Regions from separate parts of the Homo sapiens genome. Here region 1 is linked to region 2. The links come from fine-mapping of genetic effects on gene expression. A gene starts in region 2. The other region holds a variant in brackets. All regions are shown on one strand. Distances are between the middles of the regions. Region 1 has its middle 7.4 kb from the start of ZNF487. Region 2 holds the start of FXYD4 (FXYD domain containing ion transport regulator 4).

Region 1 (11,482 bases), 58 kb before region 2:
TGGTGAAACTCCAACTCTACTAAAAATTCAAAATTAGCTGGGTGTGGTGGCACATGCCTGTGATCCCAGTTATTCGGGAGGCTGAGGCAGGAGAATAGCTTGCACCCGGGAGGCAGAGGTTGCTGTGAGCCGAGATCTCGCCATTGCACTCCAGCCTGGGCAACAAGAGCGAGACTCTGTCCCAAAAAAAAAAAAAAAAAAAAAAAAAAGCCCTGAGACCCACGGTAGCTGGCCTGGATTACTTGATGAACATAAACAGGTTCACAGAAAATTGATATCAGACGAGTTCTTTCTGTGACTGAGGGAAGGAGAAAATAATTCCGATCAGTGATCTTGCCTGCATAAATAAAAACTGGCACTGCGCAACCACACACACAGAAGAATAAACATCCCTTCTTCAGCTAGCATGAGTAATTACTGCTTTTTCTCCAATGACAGCTTTAGCTCCTCTCTATTCCTCCTGCTTTCTGGATTTAAAAAAAATTTTTTTTTTTTTTTTTTGAGAAGGAGTCTTGCTCTGTCGCCCAGGCTGGAGTGAAGTAGCACAATTTCGGCTCACTGCAACCTCTGCCTCCCAGGTTCAAGCAATTCTCCTGTCTCAGCCTCTCGAATAGCTGGGATTACAGGCACCTGCCACCTAGTAGAGATGGGGTTTCACCAGGTTGGCCAGGCTGGTCTCAAACTCCTGACCTCAAGTGATCGCCTGCCTCGGCCTCCCAGAGTGCTGGGATTACAGGCATGAGCCACCGCGCCCCACCTAAAATTGTTGAAATAATCTTTGAGTGGCCGGGCGCGGTGGCTCACGCCTGTAATCCCAGCACTTTGGGAGGCCGAGGCGGGCGGATCACGAGGTCAGGAAATCGAGACCATCCTGGCTAACACGGTGAAACCCCGTCTCTACTAAAAATACAAAAAATTAGCCGGGCGAGGTGGCGGGCGCCTGTAGTCCCAGCTACTCGGGAGGCTGAGGCAGGAGAATGGCGTGAACCCCGCGGGGCGGAGCCTGCAGTGAGCCGAGATCGCGCCACTGCACTCCAGCTTGGGTGAAAAAGCGAGACTCCATCTCAAAAAAAAAAATAATAATAATCTTTGAGTTGCCCCTGTTAGTACAGCACCAATCCAAAACACACCCCTGTCCTTGGACCCTCCCCAAAATCACCAGCCACAAGTCCAAATGGTATAACAAGCCCTCTAACAAGTCTCCTAAGACACCCCATGGTTTCAGAGGTGTGATGTCTCATTGCAGCAACTAACAGCCCCAAATAATAACTAGTTCACAGTGAGGAATATATGCATTCACTGAAATAGCAAATCATCATTCCACCATATGTATGCCTTTTGTAGTCTGACTGGTAGACACGGCAAATATAGATACACTTATATATGAAGGATACGTAACTCATATGCACAAATGAAACTTCAGAGCCTATACTCTAATGAAAAATCAAAATAAATTTTTCTTTCTTTTTTTTTTTAACTCTTTGAGACAGGGTCTTGCACCATCCCCTAGCCAGGAGTGCAGTGGCAGGATCTCAGCTCGCTGCAGCCTTGACAGCTCAAGCAATCTTCCCACCTCAGCCTCTCAGCCTCCCGGTAGCTGGGACGACAGGGGGTCACCACCACACCCAGCTGATTTTTTTTTTTTTTTTTTTTTGAGATGGTGTCTCGCACTGTCTCCCGGGCTGGAGTGCAATGGTGCGATCTCGGCTCACTGCAACCTCCACCTCCCAGGTTCACGGGATTCTCCTGCTTCAGCCTCCGGAGTAGTTGGGATTACAGGCGCACACCACCACACCCGGCTAACTTTTTGTGTTTTTAGTAGAGAGGGGGTTTCACTATGTTGGCCAGACTGGTCTCAAACTCCTGACCTCATGATCTGTCCTTCTTGGCCTCCCAAAGTGCTGGGATTACAGGGTTGAGCCACCGTTCCTAGCCACACCCAGCTGATTTTTAAATTTTTTTGGAGAGACACAGACTTGCTATGTTACCTAGGCTGGTCTCTAACTCCTGGGCTCAAGTGATCCTCCTCCTGCATTGGCCTCCCAAAGTGCTGGGATTACAGCTGTGAGCCACTGCATCTGGCCAAAACAAACATTTCTTTTTTTTTTTTTTTTTTTGGACACTGAGTCTTGCTATGTTGTCCAGGCTAGAGTGCTGGGGTGTGATCTTGACTCACTGCAACCTCTGCCTCCCAGGTTCAAGCGATTCTCCTGCCTCATCCTCCCAAGTAGCTGGGACTACAGGCACACACCACCACGCCTGGCTCATTTTTGCATTTTTAGTAGAGACAAGGTTTCACCATGTTGCCCAGGCTGGTCTTGAACTCCTGAGCTTAAGTGATCCTCCTGCTTTGGCCTCCCAAAGTGCTGGGATTACAGACGCGAGCCACTGCACCCAGCTAATTTTTTTATTTTTAGTAGAGATGGGGTTTTGCCATGTTCGCCAGGTTAGTCTCAAACTCCTGACCTCAGGTGATCTGCCCACCTCGGCCTCCCAAAGTGCTACTCGGGAGGCTGAGGCAGGAGAATGGCGTGAACCCGGGAGGCGGAGCTTGCAGTGAGCCGAGATTGCGCCACTGCACTCCAGCCTGGGCAACACAGCAAGACTCCGCCTCAAAAAACAAAAAAAAATTAGCCAGGCATGGTGGCAGGCGCCTGTAATCCCAGCTACTCGGCAGGCTGAGGTGGGAAAATCGCTTGAACCTGGGAGGCAGAGGTTGCAGTGAACCGAGATCACGCCACTGCCTAGGCAACAGTGCGAGACTCTGTCTCAAAAAAAAAAAAAATACAAAAATTAGCTGGGCATAGTGGCGCAAGCCTGTAGTCCCAGCTACTGGGGAGGCAGAGGTGAGAGAATCGCTTGAACTTGGGAGGCAGATGTTGCAGTGAGCTGAGATCGTGCCATTGCAACATAGGGAGGCCCCATCTCAAAAAAAAAAAAAAAAAAAGAACCACAGATGTAGCCAGGCACAGGGGCTGATGCGTGTAATCCCAGCTACTCAGGAGGCTGTGGTGAGAGAATCATTTGAGCCTGGAACTTTAAGACCAGCCTAAGCAACGTAGTGAGACCCTGTCTCTAAAAAAAAAAATTTTAGGCCAGGTGCGGTGGCTCACGCCTGTAATCCCAGCACTTTGGGAGGCTGAGGCAGGTGGATCATGAGGTCAGGAGTTCAAGACCAGCCTGGCCAAGATGGTGAAACCCTGTCTCTATAAAAAATACAAAAATTTTCCTGGTGTGGTGGCGGGCACCTGTAATCCCAGCTAATCGAGAAGCTGAGGCAGAGAATTGCTGAGATCACGCCACTGCACTCCAGCCTGGGCAACAAGAGCAAAACTCCGTCTCAAAAAAAAAAAATTTTTTTTAATAAGCTAAAACAGGCTGGGAACATGGCTAAAACCCGTCTCTACAGAAAACATACAAAAAAATTAGCTAGGTGTGGTAGCAAGTGCTGGTGGTCCCAGCTACTCAGGAGGCTGAGGTGGAAAGATCACCTGAGCCCAGGACGTTGAGGCTACAGTGAGCCATGATCATGCCACTGCACTACAGCCTGGGCAACAGAGTAAGACTCTATCTCAAAATAATTAATTAAAATAAATATAAAATTAAATTTAAAACCCCAAATGTGGCTGAGTGTGGTGGCTTACACCTATAATCCTAGCACTTTGGGAGGCTGAGGCAGGAGGATCAATTAAGCCCAGGAGTTTGAGACCAGCCTGGGCAACACAGTGGGACCCTGTCTCTATAAAAAATAAAACCCACAAATCTGCAGGAGGAACAGGAAAAGTTTTGGTAAGGCGGCATTGTCAAATCAAAAGAGAAGGAAGGAAGGTATCTCTTTAGACTCTGCAAACACATTGACACATCTCCTGAGCTTTTCTTGGTGTTGTCAGCATCACCCAGCCCCATCCCCTACTCCTAGACTTCCCCAGACACAGAAATTAATCAACACTGTACAGGACAACCAACAAAACAGAAAATAGGGTACTCAAGCCTGGACACCAGACAGTCACCATGGGACAGCCCAGCCTTCTGCAGTAATAGTGGACAGATGTTTCCATTCAGGGAATCCAATAATAAAAGGAAAATAAATGTGCATGTTAAGGGCAGAAAAGAGGGAGAAGAGGGATTACTTGACTTACAGCAATTGCAGCTTGGAGTCTGTCTTCCAGAATCTGATGGCTTTCATAATTATGTGGTATGAGTGGAGGCTACCTCTGTAGCAGTGCTGTAGAATAGAATATAGAAATACATAAGCCAGCCAGGCACAGTGGTTCACGCCTGTAATCCCAGCACTGTAGGAGGCAGAGGTGGGTGGATCCTCTGAGGTCAGGAGTTCAAGACTAGCCTGACTGACATGGAGAAACCCTGTCTCTACTAAAAATATAAAATTAGCCAGGCATGGTGGCGCATGCCTGTAATCCCAGCTACTCCGTAGGCTGGGGCAGGAGAATTGCTTGAACCCAGGAGGCGGAGGTTGTGGTGAGCCGAGACCGCGCCACTGCACTCTAGCCTGGGCGACAGAGCAGGACTCTGTCTCAAAAAAAAAAAAAAATTGCTACTAGCTGCATTTATAAAAGTAAAAAGAAACGGGTGAAATTAATGTTAATATTTTATTTGATTCAATATATCCAAACTATTATATTTCACATGTGATTAATAAAGTTATCCATGAGACATTTGACATTCTTTTTTTCTGTATTGTCTTTGAAACCTGGTATTACAGCACATCTCAATGCATATGCTATATCTTCCTGGGTATACTTAATTTTTATTTAGAATCCATAAAAATAATAGTTGACGCTGGGTGCAGTGGCTCAAGCCTGTAATCCCAGCACTTTGGGAGGCCGAAGCGGGCAGATCACGAGGTCAAGAGATCGAGACCTTCCTGGCCAATATGGTGAAACCCCGTCTCTACTAAAAATACAAAAATTAGCTGGACATGGTGGTGGGTGCCTGCAGTCCCAGCTACTCAGGAAGGTGAGGCAGGATAATCGCTTGAACCTTGGAGGTGGAGATTGCAGTGAGCCGAGATCAGGCCACTGCACTCCAGCCTGGCGACAAAGCAACACTCTGTCTCAAAAATAAAATAAAATAATAGTTGAAAAAGTAGATTCACATACCCAAGTTGTTCTAAACATACTTAAAAGTCTTCTAGGCCGGGCGCAGTGGCTCATGCCTGTAATCCCAGCACTTTGGGAGGCCGAGGCGGGTGGATTGCCTGAGATCAGGAGTTCGAGACCAGCCTGGCCAACATAGTGAAACCCTGTCTCTATTAAAAATACAAAAAAATTAGCTGGGCGTGGTGGTGGGCACCTGTAATCCCAGCTACTAAGGAAGCTGAGGCAGGAGAATCACTTGAACCCATGAGGCAGAGGTTGCAGTGAGCCGAGATCATGCCATTGCACTCCAGCCTGGGCAACAAGAGCAAAACTCTTGTCTCAAAAGGAAAAAAAAA[AG/G]TCTTCTAATAACTGAATGAGTATTTGTTTTTAAATTTAAGGCAAGGACATGAAGAAATGTCAGCTCTATGTACTGTTGATAGAAATGTAAAATGGTGCAGCACTATGGAAAAGAGTTCTGGCAGATCCTCAGGAAACAGAATTACCATACATACGATCCAGCAGTACCACTTTTGGGTATATATGCAAAAGAATTCAAAGCAGAAACTCAGATATTGTATGTTCATCTTCATAGCAGCATTATTTACAATAGTCAAAAGATAGAGGTGAGTCAAGTGTCCACTGGTTAGATGAATGGATGAACAAAATGTGGTATATACATACAGTGGAGTTTATTGTTGTTTTTCTTTCTGAGACGGAGTCTTGCTGTGTTGCCCAGGCTGGAGTGCAGTGGCACCATCTTGGCTCACTGCAACCGCTGCCTCCTGGGTTCAAGCAGTTCTCCTGCCTCAGGCTCCCTAGTAGTTGGGATTACAGGCGCATGCCACCACACCTGGCTCATTTTTGTATTTGTAATAGAGACGGGGTTTCACCATGTTGACCAAGCTGGTCTCGAACTCCCAACCTCAGGTGATCCACCCACCCCAGCCTTCCAAAGTGCTGGGATTACAGACAAAGCAAGACCCTGGCTCAAAAAATAATACAATACAATAAAATAAAAAGTCAGCCTCTCAGTGGCACTAACCACATTTCTTTTTTTTTTCGCGACAGAATCTCGCTCTTTCACCCAGGCTGGAGTGCAGTGGTGCGATCTCGGCTCACTGCAACCGCTGCCTCCCGGGTTCAAGTGATTCTCCGGCCTCAGCCTCCCGAGTAGCTGGGACTACAGGTGCGTGACACCACGCCTGGCTAATTTTTTGTATTTTTAGTAGAGACATGGTTTCACCATGTTAGCCAGGATGGTCTCGATCACCTGATCACGTCATCCGCCAGCCTTGGCCTCCCAAAGTGCTGGGATTATAGACGTGAGCCACCGCGCCTGGCCAAACTAACCACATTTCAGGTGCTCAACAACTTTTCATGGCTAAATGGCCCCTGTATCATACAATGAGCTCTAGTCTGAGACAGAACAATGGAAGTCCTATCTTAAACCTGACCTGTTGCTCAGTCTGTATGCTAAGGTACTGCCTTTCTTGACTTACCCTGAAGGGTTGGAACCCCTTTATCTGACAAGCCTTGCTTATTATTCTGTTATTTCACAATATGCTGCAGTATGCTGTGGGAGTTTTACTAATATGTATAGAAGAGGCCGGGCGCAGTGGCTCATGCCTGTAATCCCAACATTCTGGGAGGCTGAGGTGAGTGGATCACTTGAGGTCAGGAGTTCGAGACCAGCCTGGCCAACATGGTAAAACCCCAACTTTACTAAAAATACAAAAATTAGCCAGGCGTGGTGGCACATGCCTATAATCCCAGCTACTCAGGAGGCTGCGGCAGTAGAATCGCTTGAACCCAGAAGGCAGAGGTTACAGTGATCCAACATTGCGTCACTGCACTCCAGGCTAGGCAACAGAGTGAGACTCTGTCTAAAAAAAAAAAAAGTATAGAAGAAAAATGCAGCCTCCTAATATGCTATCCATCGACTTTTACTCTGTGGATGCAAAATTTCTCAGAATGGAGGCATAGGGAGCTTACTCTAACTCCGTTTGTCGACTCATGAAATTGTACCCTAACATGGATGACTTCACACCAAAGGCACTGACCCAATGTCTATGAATTGAAAGCAGCTTATTGTAAGGTTGTCTCATTTATGAACAGCACAGGGACTTGATATCTGAAACGGAGGGTGAAGGAGCGCTGCTCCATAGGCTTCAGGAGGGTTTGCTCTGACTTTGCTTCAAGGGCTTAATGTGGTTGGTTTTAATTTAGTTTTTAGTACAGTATAGGGTTCCTAACAGGTGCACAATATACATTTATTTCAGATAAGGATTGATTGGAAATGTGCTATTTTTATATTAGTCTTTATATTTCATTGCTGTGTGATTTAATCAAACTTTTCAATTCTCAAATATTCTGTTTGTTTCCAATTACATGCAGCTCCTGCATGTGTCTTCTTTTCTGAAAACGTATAATATCTGACTTATCCCTCAGCTTGGCAGTAAGCGCTCTAAAAAGCAAGGATGCTGGCCAGGCGCGGTGGCTCACGCCTGTAATCCCAGCACTTTGGAAGGCCGAGGCGGGCAGATCACGAGGTCAGGAGTTTGAGACCAGCCTGGCCAGCATGGTGAACCCCTGTCTCTACTAAAAATATAAAAAATTATCTGGTCATGGTGGTGCATGCCTGTAATCCCAGCTACTCAGGAGGCTGAGTCAGAAGAATCACGTGAACCCAGGAGGCGGAGGTTGCAATGAGCCAACATCGCACCACTGCACTCCAGCCCGGGCGATAGAGCGAGACTCTGTCTCAAAAAAAAAAAAAGCAAGGATGCTGGTATCCAACACGTTAAAAAATAAATAAAAGCAAGGACAGAACAGTTTAATTCTTCTTAACTTCTATACCATCAGGCACAGAGCTCAATAAATTTTCAGTATTTGCTGACTACTAGAAATATTTTTTCCGTAAGAGTTCATGTGCATTTTAATCTTACTATATATGCTGCTGAAGTGAGCACATGTTCACATGTATTTTGTGGTTTTTTTGGTTTTGGTTTCTTTTTTTTTTTTTTTTTTGAGACAGTCTCCTCTGTCACCCAAGCTGGAGTGCAGTGGTGTGATTTCAGCCCACTGCAACCTCCGCCTCCTGGATTCTAGTGATTCTGCTCCCTCAGCCTCCCTGCTGGGTTCTAGTGATTCTCCTGCCTCAGCCTCCCAAGTAACTGGGACTCCAGGCACGCACCACCATGCCTGGCTTATTTTTAAATTTTTATTAGAGACAGGGTTTCACTATTGGTTGGCCAGGCTGGTTTCAAACTACTGAATTCAAGTGATAGGCCCACGTCGGCCTCCCAAAATGCTGGGATTACAGGCGTCAGCCACCATGCCCGGCCTACATGTATTTTCTTTTTCTTTTTTTTTTTCTTTTTTTTTTTTTTGAGATAGTCTCAGGCTGCCGTCCAGGCTGGAGTGCAATGGCATGATCTCAGCTCACTGCAACCTCCTCCACCTCCCGGGTTCAAGCGATTCTTTTGCCTCAGCCTCCCAAGTAGCTGGGATTACAGGCGCCCGCCACCACACCCGGCTAATTTTTGTATTTTTAGTAGAGACAGAGTTTCACCATGTTGGTTAGGCTAGTCTTAAACTCCTGACCTCAGGTGATCCACCCGCCTTGGCCTCCCAAAGTGGTGAGATTACAGGCGTAAGCCACCATGACTGGCCGTTTTTTTTTGTTTTTTTTTTTGTTTTTTTTTGAGGCAGGGTCTCACTCAGGTTGCCCATGCTGGAGTGCAATGGCGCCATCTCGGCTCACTGCAACCTCTGTCTCCTGGGTTCAAGCGATTCCCCTGCCTCAGCCTGCTGAGTAGCTGGGATTACAGGCAAGCGCCACCACACCTGGCTAATCTTGTATTTTTAGTAGAGTCGGGGGTTTTTCCATGTTGGCCAGGCTGGTCTCAAACTCCCAACCTCAGGTGATCCATCTGCCTCGGCCTCCCAAAGTGCTGGGATTATAGGCATGAGTCACCGTGTCCGGCCAAAAACATTTTTTTAAAGAGATTGAGGGGGAGGGGGGTCTCACTATGTTGCCCAGGCTGGTCTCCAGCTGACCTCAAGTAATTCTCCTGCTTTAGCCTCCCAAAGTGCTGGAATTACAGACATGAGCCACCACATCTAACCCATAAAGGCACATTTAAGGGGCATGGTTGCCCAAGTGCATTTCAGCACCAGAAAGAACCATGGGGAGAGGATCCCAGCCATGGAAACAGACCTGTCAGGTGTGGTCAAGATGAATGAAAACTAACTTTGTGGCTAAGTCAGCCAACTTACAGGAAATCAGCAAACTGATAGGAAATAATATTTATAGTTAACATTTTTAGGAAACCAAATTGCTTTTCACTGCTTTTACAGATATCGGTAGACTTACTTATAGATTCAGTATTCATTACTTCGTTGTATATTGAATCAAGTGGCCCTCTCTCTCTTAAGGGATGAAAGTTAGGCCTGGCTGGCAGAAGTGAGACTGGCTGGGATAGAAGAGAAAGAGTCCCAGTTAAGACCCGTTATAGCTGGGCGCGGTGGCTCACGCCTGTAATCCCAGCACTTTGGGAGGCTGAGGTGGGCAGATCTCGAGGTCAGGTGATTGAGACCATCCTGGCTAACAGGGTGAAACCTCATCTCTACTAAAAATACAAAAAATTAGCTGGGCGTGGTGGCGGGCGCCTGTAGTCCCAGCTACTCAGGAGGCTGAGGCAGGAGAATGGTGTGAACCCAGGAGGCGGAGCTTGCAGTGAGCCGAGATGGTGCCACTGCACTCCAGCCTGGGCGACAGAGCGAGACTCTGTCTCAAAAAAAAAAAAAGACCCATTATTTTGCTGTCCAGAAAACTTATCCCAGGGAAGCTAAGCTAAGCAACTTTGGAAAAGTTGCCTAAATGGTGAATAGCTGCACAGAAACCCACTGTGCCTGAGTCCTATTCTAACCATCTTCCTCTCAAGCCAGACTGATTTATTTGCTATGTGTGTATGCATGTGTGTGTCTCCTTGCTTTGCCCAGTAAAAAGTACTATAAGTACCATACCATAAGTACAAAGTAGTGTAAGACTGTAAAAGTGAGCATACAAGCTGATACCATGCAAAGCAATCTTAATGATCAATGAGAAAAATTATGATTGTTCTGTGACTTTCAAAATTTTTTGCCAAAACATTAAAAACTCTTTCAGTTTGAAATGTACAGGGAAATGAAAATAGTAAAACTAATATTTATCTGGTACTATGTAATTTAATACATTAGAAATATTGAGGCCAGGCGCAGTGGCTCACACTTACAATCCCAGCACTTTGGGAGGCCAAGTTGGGCAAATCACCTGAGGTCAGGAGTTTGAGACCAGCCTGGTCAACATGGTGAAACCCTGTCTCTACTAAAAATACAAAAATTAGCCAGGTGTGGTGGTGGGCGCCTGTAGTCTCAGCTACTTGGGAGGCTGAGACAGGAGAATCACTTGGAACCGGGAGGCGGAGTTTGCAGTGAGCTGAGATTACACTATTGCACTCCAGCCTGGGTGACAGAGTGAGACTCCATCCCCCAACAACAACAATAAAAAAAAGAAAAGAAAAGAGAAAGAAAGAAATATTGAGAATTAGTTTTCTTTGTAAAAACCTACCAAGAGGCCCGGTATGGTGGGAGACAAGAAGCAACACAACCACATGCCTTTCTGTGCATGAGTGAACGAAATAACAGACTTTCAAAGAAATTACGCAACTTGTCACTGATCATGTACATTTGTTATTCACAGTGCTTTGTGCACTGACGAGCTGGCAACGAAGTTTATATTTTATGTAATTGCTCATACTTAACATACTGTAGTAACTGATATTTGAACCCTGTTGTTGGGAGACTGATGTTACTTAACAAAACCATGGTAAGCGAAATCCATGCATATCTGGGCCTTGTACAATCAAGTCTGGCTGTATAATGTATTTCTATGACATTGGACAAGTCCCTCCGAGAGATAAAACCACCCATCTCTCAGAGTTACCATGCGAAGTAGTGATCACATAAATATGTTCTACACAGCAGTGGGCAGACAGCTGCCAGGCTTTTGAGTAGGAATAATTAATATTTGTGGCAGCAGAAACAAAATCTAGTTTTTTTGTAAAAAATTCCAAAATTAGCCAGGTGCGGTGCTCATGTCTGTAATCCCAGCACTTTGGGAGGCCAAGGCAGGCGGATCGTGAGGTCAAGAGATAAAGACCATCCTGGCCAACATGGTGAAACCCCATCCCTACTGAAAATACAAAAATTAGCTGGGCGTGATGGCACGCACCTGTAGTCCCAGCTACTCACGAGGCTGAGGCAGGAGAATCACTTGAACCCGGGAGGCGGAGGTTGCAGTGAGCTGAGATTGCACCATAGCACACCAGCCTGGGTGACAG
Region 2 (11,482 bases):
AAAAGCAGTCTCTCACACCAGCGTCTTCCCGTGCCAACGAGGAGAGAGCTCTGCACTGCACCCCCTGGATGAGGAGGCGTGCTCAGGAGCCCCCTTCTACCAGCCCTGCTGGGTGGCTCCCACCCCTGCCTCTGCGTCCTGCAGGGCTGGGCCTTGCCTCCTCAGTGATCCTATCGCCTGCATTCCAGTCGTGCTGCTAATTCCCTCCACCAGGGTGGTTTGCGCACAGGCCCCTCCCTAGGTCCACCTGTGCAGACTCAGCGCTGCCTCTGGGCTGGCCATACCACCTGGGGCTGCTGGTACAGGACAGCTTCCCCAAAGCACTGGGGCTTGCCAGGCCTTCTGTGACCCACCCAAGATTCCCTGATAGTGGCTGGACTCAGCCAGGTATCTTTAGTCCCACTCAGCCCCACCTTGGAACCTTGCTCTCAGTCCCTACGTGTCCTGTTTCAAAGGCCCTGGAAGACATGTGGACCTCATTTTTACACCTCTGGGGCCCTGCACAAGTCTCTGACCCCACCCACAAGGCAGGTGACCCTAAGTCTAGGATACATCATACTTCTCAAGGATGTGGCCCACCCTGAGACATGGAGGAAGGGTGCATCATTGGAGACAGCTGCCCAGCCCAAGCCCTGGCCTCAGATTGGGAGCTGCCACCTGGCGGGGACTCCATTGTTCTCTGGCCTTTGCTGGAGGCAGAGGCTAGAAGTGGTCTCAGTTCCTTCTCCTGGGCTGTCAAGGGGCAGGACTGCAGGATGGGCACCAGGCAGAAGTGGCACTTCACACCCCTGCCTGGGGTGCCACAGGGACATTGCCAGGGAAGTCTTCCTGGAGGGGAGTTCAGGCATGCCAAAGAACTTGGATTTGCACACATGGTGTTTGTCTCCCACATGCACTATGCAGGGCTTCTCGAGACATACTTCTTCATGGAATTTCACAGGATATTTCCTGGGAGGAGGGGGGCCCATGGGGTGAGCTGAGGATTTTACTGGGATGGGTCAAAGGAATTGCTACATTTTCTACCATAGAGAGCATTCACTGGGTGAGGTCTCAATGGGGGGTCTCAATTGAGGTCTCAATGGGGGGGTGAGCCCTGGGGGTCGCTCTAGATTAAAGGAAGTCATGGGTACCTGAGGCATCAGGACTTCTAGGGCCCCCGTGCAAGTGGTGGAAATGGAAAGGTCTTCTGTTATAACACTGTGGTATCTCACAGTGCATGGGTCTCTCTGTGGGGCTTGCTGGAGTGGGAGCCATAGGAGACAGTTGGGCGGCAGGGACTCAGGGACTGGGAAGCTTGCTGGGAGTGGGCATCCAGGGAAAGTCAGCAATCCAAGGGATTACCCACCCCCAGACCCAAAGACGATGGATCACAAGACTACCGAGGAGGGGGTGGTGGGGCGAGTTTAATTCATAAAGAAGCCTCCTGATCAGAAAGGGGCCTAACAGCCTGCCCTTGGAGAGAAGTCCTTCCTTGAGGATAAGGCCTCCCAGGGGAGGAGGTGCTGGGGGCCAGTGTTAGGCTTCAGGCCATCCCTGGAGGCCAGTCCTGTGCTCAGCAAGTAGTGGCAGAGCCTGCGGAGAGTGGCGGGCAGGCCATCAGACACAGTCCTTACACAGACACCCCCTCAGCCCACAGAAGCCCGTCTCACCTGGAGTGATGAGTGGGATGGCCTTCTCAGGTACAGGACTAGAGAAAGGACCACATCAGAGTAGTATCAGGTTAGCCTGGAGGACCTTCTCCCCTATATCCCAGACTCTTGCTGCCCGGCCCCAGGAGTGCAAGTCCTTGCTCTCCTTCCATGGTCACTTCCCACAATACCGAGGTCAGAGCTTTCCTGACTGGGGCCCTTCAGGGTTGACTATCTGAATAACAAAGCCAGCTGCAAGCCCAGCGAGTGGCCAGGATGCTGTCCACTCTCCAGGTCAGGACTGTCCCCCCGTAGTTCTGCCCCGAAGGAGGAGGGCACCATAGGGTCAGGCTCACCTGTGCTGCTTCTGGCTGCTCTTGCATTTGCATTTGCCACCTGGGAGAGAGAGAGGGGTCAGCGCCAGGGTCAGTGCTGGAATGAGAGCACTCTCTCTTTCTGCCCCACCCTGTCCGCCAGCCCCACCCTGTCCTCCAGCCCCACCTGTCCTGCCACTCACTCAGAACTGCCGCGATCCCAGCAATGGCCAGGAGCCCTCCGCAGATCAGTCCGCTCAGCTGCAGGTTTTTCCAGTCTGGGGTGGGTACAGAGAGTGAGCTTGCACCAGCCTGGGGCCTCAGTCATTCATTCAAAAGACACTCCTGAGCCCCTGCTTGTGCCAGCCGCTGCCATATACATAAAGACAAGCCAGCAACAGAGGCATCATTCTGCGTCTCGTGGGGAAACACTAAGAAGAAAAAAAGTGAGGCTGGGTGCGGTGGCTCACATCTGTAATCCCATCACTTTGGGAGGCCGAGGCGGGCAGATCACCTGAGGTCAGAAGTTCGAGACCAGCATGACCAATATGGTGAAACCCCATCTCTACTAAAAATACAAAAATTAGCTAGGCGTGGCGGCAGGCGCCTGTAGTCCCAGCTACTCGAGAGGCTGAGACAGGAGAATTGCTTGAACCCGGGAGATGGAGGTTGCAGTGACCCGAGATCATGCCACTGTACTCCAGCCTAGGCGACAGAGTCAGAATCTGTCTCAAAAAAAAAAAAAAAAAAAAAAAGAAGTGGACATGCGCAAAGAAAGGGCTTTGAAGGATGATCAAGGAAAGCTGTCCTGGAGCTGAGGCCCAGGGGAGAGGAGGAGAGGAGGACTGCCTGAGGGCTGGGGACTAGGGAAAGGGAGGGTGAGGGTGAGTGAAGGCAAGAGGGTAGGGGTGATTTATCGGGGTGCCTAACCACCCAGGCACCAGCCCTTCTCCAGGAGGGTTCCTAAGCATCCTGTGGCCACCCTCCCCTTGTTGGAGCGACGCTCTCACAGAGACCAGGTTTAATCCCCCATCCCACTTTGTCTACACTAGGTCCACACTACCCCTCACCAACTTGTCTAGCAAAGAGGTCCAGGATAGGCAAGGGTAGGGTGGGGGTGGGAATATCAGCTCTTACCATAGTAGAAGGGATCGTCTTTATTGGCTAGAAAAAGTGGGGCAAAAAGACTTCAGAACCAGAACCAGGAGACAGGATGTGGGTGTCAGAGGGGAGATGTGGGCAGAGTGGGCAGGCTGTTTGGGGGCCTCACTCACCAAATGGGTCATTGGCTTCCAAGGCAGTCAGGCCTGTGTGGGAGGAGCAGAGAAAATGTGTGGGAATTCATGACACTGGTGTCCAAGTAAGCCAGACAGCAGGACCCCAGCCCGGAGGTTGTGGGGTGACCCTGGAGCCACCAGTTCCCTTCCTCACGCCCTCCCCAGCCCCACACAGCCTCAGGGTGTGGCCCCGCCCAAGCCCTGCTGTCCCAGGCTTCCTGATGCTCCTGTGTGCATGCTGACTGGGATGGTTTGTTATGTCTCTGCCCCCTGAAGAAACAGGGAATGCTTGTCTTTTTTATGAGTCGGAACCTCTCTCTGTCACCCAGGCTGGAGTGCAATGGTGCAATCCTAGCTCACTGCAACCTCGACCTCCCAGGCTCAAGTGATCCTCCCAGGCTCAAGTGATCCTCCCACCTTGGCCTCCCAAAACACTGGGATTACAGGCCTGAGCCGCTGTGCCACCCTGCTTTTGTCTTCAAGCCACAGGTGGTTAATGTTTTCCATGGTTCAATTCCTCTGGAGCTATTAGGACCTTTTTGCAATATTCTCATCCTACCTGTACTGTCATTTCCTTCATGTTTCTCTCTAAATTGGCAGTTTAAATAAAGCATGCTGATTGAACACCAGACTCCCAAAGGAGATGTTGTCTGGCTTTTGCTGCCTTTGTGGGTGGGGTGAATGCAAGAGGGTCCCAGGAGACTGGGAGGACTCACCTGCCAGTAGGAGAAGGGCCAGGGTCACTCTCTCCATGTCACAGTTCGAGGGGCAGGGCTGCAGGGGGAGAGGCACTGGGGCGGGGGTCTGCAGCCCACGGATCTGCTCCAGGCTCACAGCTCAATTGGTCAGCGAGAGGAGGCAGGGGCGGGGGCAGGCAGAGCCCCATGGTGAAAGTAGGTGTACAAACCCCAAGGATACACTTGCTTGTGGGGAGATCTTGGGAAAGTAACTACTTTCTGTCTTCCCATCTAGAGATGGTGGTGGCCTGGGGGAGTTGTGTGGATTGAGTAAGCACAAGCTAAGAGCTCAAAACTGTGCCTGCACAGAGTAAGTGCTGTAGAAGGCGTTGTTAAAATCCATGCGACAAACCCACCCCCTACTCCTCCCCATGAGGAAGATACTATTATTGTCTCTATTTCAGAGAAGAAAAAAAAAAATGGAGCTTAGAGAGGTGTAATCAGATGCCCAGGGTCAGGTGGCTGCTATTCTAAGTCAGGGTCTGGAGCCTGCCTTCCTAACCCCACACAAAGGGCATTGTTATCAGGCCCCAGGCTATTGTTCCCAAAGGTCTGGGCCTGGGGTGGCCAGAGTCCAGCACCCTCAGTCTGAATTCCCAGAGAGCCTCCACAAAAGCAAGGGTGTGGAGGAGGGAGGGAGTGCTGAGTCCTGGGATGAGATGACTGCAGCAGCCAGGACCTCCCCTGCCAGCCCTGGCAGGGGACCCTACTCCAGCAGACCCAGATTCTGCTCTCAGAGTATAGACCTCCTGTGGTATGACATTTCCCCCTCAGGTTGGAAGTAGCCAGGACCCCATTTACTTGTCCTTAGGGAGGCTGAGTCTTTGAGCGCAGGCCCCCTCCCAGCCCTCTGCATATTGTTAGCCTAGTGTGGTCAAGTTTTCAATACTGAAGCCATTGTCATCATCTGCTGTACCCAGCTCTGGCCTCCTGATGAGATCACAGATCCAGGGCCAGCTGTCTGGGCTGGGTCCCTTCTTAGCAACTTACCAACTGTGTGACTCTGCAGGTTCCTCACTGCTCCTTCACCAGTGTCCTGTAAAAGGAGGATCATCAGAATAGTAGCAACCTCATAAGGTTATAGCGATGGAATTACGTGAACTACTATTTGTCAAGCCTAAGAACTATGCCTAGCACACAGTAAGCACTAAAAACCTGTTACAATAAATACATCCATAGGCCGGGCGCAGTGGCTCACACCTATAATCCCAGCACTTTGGGAGGCTGAGGCGGGTGGATCACCTGAGGTCAGGAGTTCAAGATCAGCCTGGCCAACATGGCAAAACCCCATCTATACTAAAAATACAAAAATTAGCTGAGTGTGGTGACAGGCGCCTGTATTCCCAGCTACTTGGGAAGCTGAGGCAGGAGAATCACTTAAACCTGGAAGGTGGAGGTTGCAGTGAGCCGAGATCCTGGCACTGCACTCCAGCCTGGGCAACAGAGGGAGACTCCATCTCAAAATAAATAAATAAATACATCCATAAATAAACACATGGTCCTTCTGCAGTGGGAGGGAGGCACTGGAGGGAGAGACTGTTAGGCACTGCTTCTGAACATCGGTTCTTGGGCTAGGAGCAGTCTCCAAAGCTGGCTTCCCCCAGCCTTCACTGGTCTCTCTACCTTCACCAACCTGGAGTTCCTGGAATACGAGGGTCTCAACTCTAGGTCACATTTTTTATTTTATTATTATTATTATTACTATTTTTTTTTTTTTTGAGACAGGGTCTTGCTCTGTTACCCAGGATGGAGAGCAGTGGCGTGATCTCGGCTCACTGCAGCCTTGAACTCTCTTGGCTCAGGTGATCTCCTCACCTGAGTATCTCAAGCAGTTGGGACCAGAGGTATACCCCACCAGCTCATATATTCTTTAGCCAAGGGCTGGCTTCTGTTTCCTCCAACCCCCAACCCACCATCCATATGATAGTGGGTGCAAAGCAGGAGGCCTTCAAGCGGCTGCTGCAGCCATATCTGTCCTCAGACCCCTCAACAGGCTCCTCATTACTCAGAATTCTTGGGCACCCACCCCCTTCACCCAGCAGCCCCAAAGTGGACGCCTGCTCACCTGCGAGGTCACCTTGGCGAGGGCTCACCTGAGCTGGCAGCGCAGAGAACGGATCTGAGGAGGCTGCTGGGCACGTGGGTCGGCTCTTTAAACCCTGCAGCCACGCCCAGGGCTCCATGACGCAGGCTGGAGGGAACTGGTCAGGCTCCCTGCCACACCCAGGGCTGTTGGGGAGGGGCGGGCTGGGCCGAAGACCCTCTTTTGGCTTCTTTTTTTTTTTTTTTTTTTTTTTTTTTTCTTTTTTTGAGATGGAGTCTCACTCTGTCACCCGGGCTGGAGTGCAGTGATGCAATCTCAGCTCACTGCAACCTCTGCCTCCTGGGTTCAAGCAATTCCCCTGCCTCAGGCTCCCGAGTAGCTGGGACTACAGGTGCACGCCACCACACCTGGCTAATTTTTTTTGTATTTTAGTAGAGATGGGGTTTCAATGTGTTGCCCAGGCTGGTCTCCAACTCCTGAGCTCAGGCAATCCGCCCACCTCGGCCTCCCAAAGTGCTAGGATTACAAGCGTGAGCCACCGCGCCCAGCCTTTCTTTTGGCTTCTTTAGCTCACCCAGATCCTAAAAGAGGGACCTGGAGGGTGCTGGGCAGGGTGTTCCTGGGCTCTTGTGCCAGCTTTGGGGGTTCTGGGACCTCTGTGTGGGGGTGTCCTGGGGACCACGGAGGATACCAGGAGCCAGGCACTGACCTTGAGGCTCCCTGTGCTCAGCAGTGCCATGCCACTGCTGTCACTTGGGCTGGGTGTCTACTGAAGGGAGGCTGGTGGCCGATGGGCACCCCCGGGGGTGGCTCACCCTCTGACAGGGCCCTGACACCCACTTAGCCTCCCCCACAGGTGAGGGATGGGGCCAGGAGGAGGATAGACGCCCCCGGCTGAGGAGTGGGCTGCCTCCCTCTGCAGACCTCAGGCCTGCCTTGTTGCTGGGGGCCAAAGTCACCCCACACAGGCGTGTGGAGGACCCCAGGCCTCCCTAGTCTGCTGTTACCCCTCCTTAATTCTTTTCCAAATGAGGGACACTTGTCCCTGTCCAGAAGGTAAGGGGGGATGGCTGACAAGGGATGGGGGTCTCTGGGCTGGGAGGGCTGGGGAGGGCAATGATGGTTTAGTTGGTTTGTTTGTTTATTTATATATTTATTTTTGAGCTGGAATTTCGCTCTGTCGCCCAAGCTGGAGTGCAGTGGCTCGATCTTGGCACACCACAACCTCCACCTCCCAGGTTCAAGCAATTCTGTCTCAGCCTCCCGAGTAGCTGGGATTACCGGCACACACCACTGTGCCCAGCTAATTTTTGTATTTTTAGTAGAGATGGGATTTCGCTATGTTGAGCAGGCTGGTCTCGAGCTCCTGACCTCAGGCGATCCACTGCCTCGGCCTCCCAAAATGCTGGGATTACAGGTGTGAGACACTATGTCTGGCCCAGACATACTTTTAAGTGGAAAAAAAGTATAGGGCAGTCTGAATAGGATGCTGTCACTTGTGTAAAAATATAAAATATTGGTTGGGAAAGGCGGCTCACGCCTGTAACCCCAGCACTTTGGGAGGCTGAGGTGGGCCTGTGTCTGTGTGCATGCTGCATGGGGCTTAGCACAGAGGAGGCGTCCCGGTGTTTCCTCAGCCAGCTGTTTACTTGAGTTCATTGCATATATGACTGCACCTAGCCCTCACAGAAGTCTTTGGAGGTTCATACTCTCATTAGCCTGTCAATCTACAATAGTCAAACAGGTTAGATTTTAGTTTAAAGGAGTTTATTTAAGTGTAAAGGTTAAGGATGGCCTGCTCAGGAAGTAAGGATGGTAAAGAATGGAAGTCATGGCTGGGGGCGGTGGCTCACGGTTGTGATCCCAGCACTTTGGGAGGCTGAGGAGGGCAGAACATGAGATCAGGAGTTCAAGACCAGCCTGGCCAACAAGGTGAAACCCCGTCTCTACTAAAAATACAAAAATTAGCCGGGCGTGGTGGCGCGCTCCTGTAGTCCCAGCTACTTGGGAAACTGAGGCAGGAGAATCGCTTGAACCTGGGAGGCGGAGGTTGCAGTAAGCTGAGATCGTGCCACCGCACTCCAGCCTCAGCGACAGAGCGAGACTCCATCTTAAAAAAGAAAAAAAGAGAAGAATGGAAGTCAGAGTTTTAAAGTCTCGGTGGAGTGTGGGGGTTAAATCCTGACACTCTGGGAGGCCAAGGTGGGCAGATCACTTGAGCCCAGGAGTTTGAGACCAGTCTGGGCAACATAGCGAGACCCCATCTCTACAAAAAAAAATAGAACAAACAGCCTGGCGTGGTGGCACACACCTATACTCCAGCAGAGGTGGGAGGATCGCTTCAGCATGGGAGGTCAAGGCTGCTGTGAGCCCAGAAAGCACCACTGCACTCCAGCCTGGGTGACAGAGGGAGACCTGTCTCACAATAAATACGTAAAATGTAGAAGTTTGGGATCATTTATTTTATTTTTATTTTTTTGAGACAGAGTCTCATTCTGTTGAGACAGAGTCATTCTGTTGCCCAAGCTAGAGTGCAGTGGCACGATCTCTGCTCACTATAACCTCCGCCTTTTGGGTTCAAGTGATTCTTGTGCCTCAGCCTCCTGAGTAGCTGAGATTACAGGCCCGAGCCTCCATGCCCAGCTAATTTTTTCTATTTTTAGTAGAGACAGTGTTTCACTACTTTGACCAGGCTGGTCTCAAACTCCTGACCTCAAGTGATCCACCTGCCTCGGACTCCGAAAGTGCTGGGATTACAGGCATGAGCCACCGTGCCTGGCCTGGGATCGTTTATATAGACACAGTTTAGGAACGTTTAACAGGATTTTAGCTGTTTTTTTAATCTTTTTTGAGACAGGGTCTCCCTCTGTCGCCCAGGCTGAAGTGCAATGATACAGTCATGGCTCTCTGCAGCCTCGACCTTCTGGAACAAGCAATTCTCCTGCCTCACCCTCCTGCGTAGCTGGGACTACAAGTGCACGCCACCACGCCAGGCTAATTTTTGTATTTTTTTTGGTAGAGACAGTTTTGCCATGTTGCCCAGGCTGGTCTCAAACTTCTGGGCTCTAGTGATTCACTTCCCTTGGCTGCCTAAAGTGTTGGGATTACAGATGTGAGCCACCCACTGCCGCTGGCTGAATTTTAACTTTTAAAATTTAAGGTTTAATGCATAGTTATAATGATCTGGGCCGAGTGTGGTGGCTCACGTCTGTAATCCTAGCACTTTAGGAGGCCGAGGCAGGTGGATCACCTGAGGTCGGGAGTTCGAGATCAGCCTGACCAACATGGAGAAACCCCATCTCTACTAAAAACACAAAATTCGCCGGGCGTGGTGGCGCATGCCTGTAATCCCAGCTACTTGGGAGGCTGAAGCAGGAGAATTGCTCGAACCTAGGAGGCAGAGGTTGCAGTGAGCCAAGATTGCGCCATTGCACTCCAGCCTGGGCAACAAGAGTGAAACTCCATCTCAAAAAAAAAATGATCTGATCAGTTGAGGTAGTCTTTCTTTAGGAGGAAGTTCTATTTAACACTTTATTTATTTAAAATTTAAATATTTGTATATAAAATGAAGGCTGAGTCAGGCTGGGGGTGGTAGCTCACGCCTGTAATCCCAGCACATTGGGAGGCCGAGGTGGGAGGATCACGAGGTCAGGAGTTTGAGACCAGCCTGGCCAACATACTGAAATCCCGTCTCTACTAAAAAATACAAAAAATTAGCTGGGCATGGTGGCGGGAGCCCGTAATCCCAGCTATTCGGAAGGCTGAGGCAGGAGAATCACTTGAAGCCAGTGGGTGGAGGTTGCAGTGAGCCGAGATCAGCCATTGCACTCCAGTCCAGGGAACAGTGCGAGACTCCGTCTCAAAAAAAAAAAAAGTGAAGGCTAGGTCTCACTATGTTGCCCAGGCTGATCTTGAACTCTTGGTCTCTTGCCTTGGACTCCCAAAGTGCTGGAATTATAGTGGTGAGCCACTCCTCTCAGCCAATTTATTCATTTTTTAAATTAAAACATATGGAATCAGCCTGGACAACATGGTGAAACCCTATCTCTACCAAAAATAGAAAAAATTAGCCAGGCGTGGTGGTGCACACCTGTGGTCCCAGCTACTTGGGAGGCTGAGGCAGGAGGATAGCTTGAGCCTAGGAAGCAGAGGCTGCAGTGAGCTGAGATCTCGCCACTGCACTCCAGCCTGAGTGACAGGGTGAAACCCTGTGTGTGTGTGCGTGCGTGTGTGTGTGTATATATATATATATATGGGATGAGATATATATATATATGGGATGAGATATATATATATATATAGTCAGGAGATTGAGACTATCCTGGCTAACACGGTGAAACCCCGTCTCCACTAAAAATACAAAAAATTAGCCGGGCGTGGTGGCGGGCGCCTGTAGTCCCAGCTACTCGGGAGGCTGAGGCAGGAGAACAGCGTGAACCCAGGAGGCGGAGCTTGCAGTGAGCTGAGATCGCGCCACTGCACTCCAGCCTGAGCAACAGAGCGAGACTCCGTCTCAAAAAAAGAAGAAGCAGACTTGTGAAATGTTATGTGATTCAGATCATAGTCACATCTCTCTTAAAGCTTAAAGTGTTTTAGGTGTTGTAAACTTTATTTTCACAATCCCCACTTTAAGGGTGAGAAAACTGAGGAAGAGAAAGGTTGAGTGACTTGCCCCATGTCACATGTAGGGTGGATGGTGAGGTCAGGACCCCAGCCTGGTGGCTGGATGGCGACACCCTCACTGCCTAGGGCAGCCGCCTCACTGTGCTTTTTTTTTTTTTTTTTTTTTTTTGAGATGGAGTCTCGCTCTGTTGCCCAGGCTAGAGTGCAGTGGCATGATCTTGACTCACTGAAACCTCCGCTTCCCGGGTTCAAGCGATTCTCCTGCCTCGGCCTCCAGAGTAGCTGGGACTACAGGCGCATGCCACCATGCCAGGTTAATTTTTGTAATTTTGGTAGAGACTGGGTTTCACCATATTGGTCAGGCTGGTCTCAAACTCCTGACCTCAGGTGATCCACCCGAAAGTGCTGGGATTACAGGCATGAGCTACTGCACCCAGCCTTGCTGTGCTTTTTATGGTGTGGCCTCTCTGGGTGCCATGGTCTCCTGGAGGGCAGATCTTGGCCTGCCTGACCCTGTGTTTCCTGGCCTCTGCCTCCCACTCTCTCTCTGCTGGTCTCTGGGCATGTGTCCCCCAGCCATTCTCTATGCAGGAAATAGAATGTAGTGGCTCTGCAGTAACTGAGCAGAGTTTAAACTTGGGGCCCATCTCCCAAGCCAGGTGACATTGGAGAAGGTTTCTACCTCCTTGGGTCTCGGTTTCTTCATTTATTAAAGGAGACTAGTGAAAGCATTGTTTTGAGGACTCAATGTCCTGAGCCAGCTCCCTTGCCATCGTGGTTTCTCTGAGGGTGGTGTCACTGCAGCAGGGTATATTTTCTCCCACTTTCTGTCTGGGTCTCCCAGGTCTTTTTTTTTATT

The links. PIP is the estimated chance that this variant, and not a neighbour inherited with it, causes the effect.
Region 1: its variant is the best candidate, but not a certain one, in a credible set for the expression of FXYD4 in lung (TOPMed, PIP 0.57).

The regions. Positions count from the first base shown.
Region 1 is chr10:43,423,953-43,435,434 of GRCh38, reverse strand. No RefSeq gene overlaps it. Among named protein-coding and RNA genes, the nearest start is that of ZNF487, 7.4 kb to the left of the region's middle. The variant AG/G (reference allele first, on the strand shown) is at 5,456.
Region 2 is chr10:43,366,237-43,377,718 of GRCh38, reverse strand. FXYD4 (FXYD domain containing ion transport regulator 4) reads right to left here and starts at 6,083. Exons shown (of 9, transcript NM_173160.3): 1 at 6,022-6,083; 2 at 4,947-4,992; 3 at 3,936-4,204; 4 at 3,217-3,249; 5 at 3,080-3,106; 6 at 2,146-2,220; 7 at 1,985-2,024; 8 at 1,650-1,687; 9 at 1,384-1,572. The coding sequence starts at 3,972. The coding sequence ends at 1,553.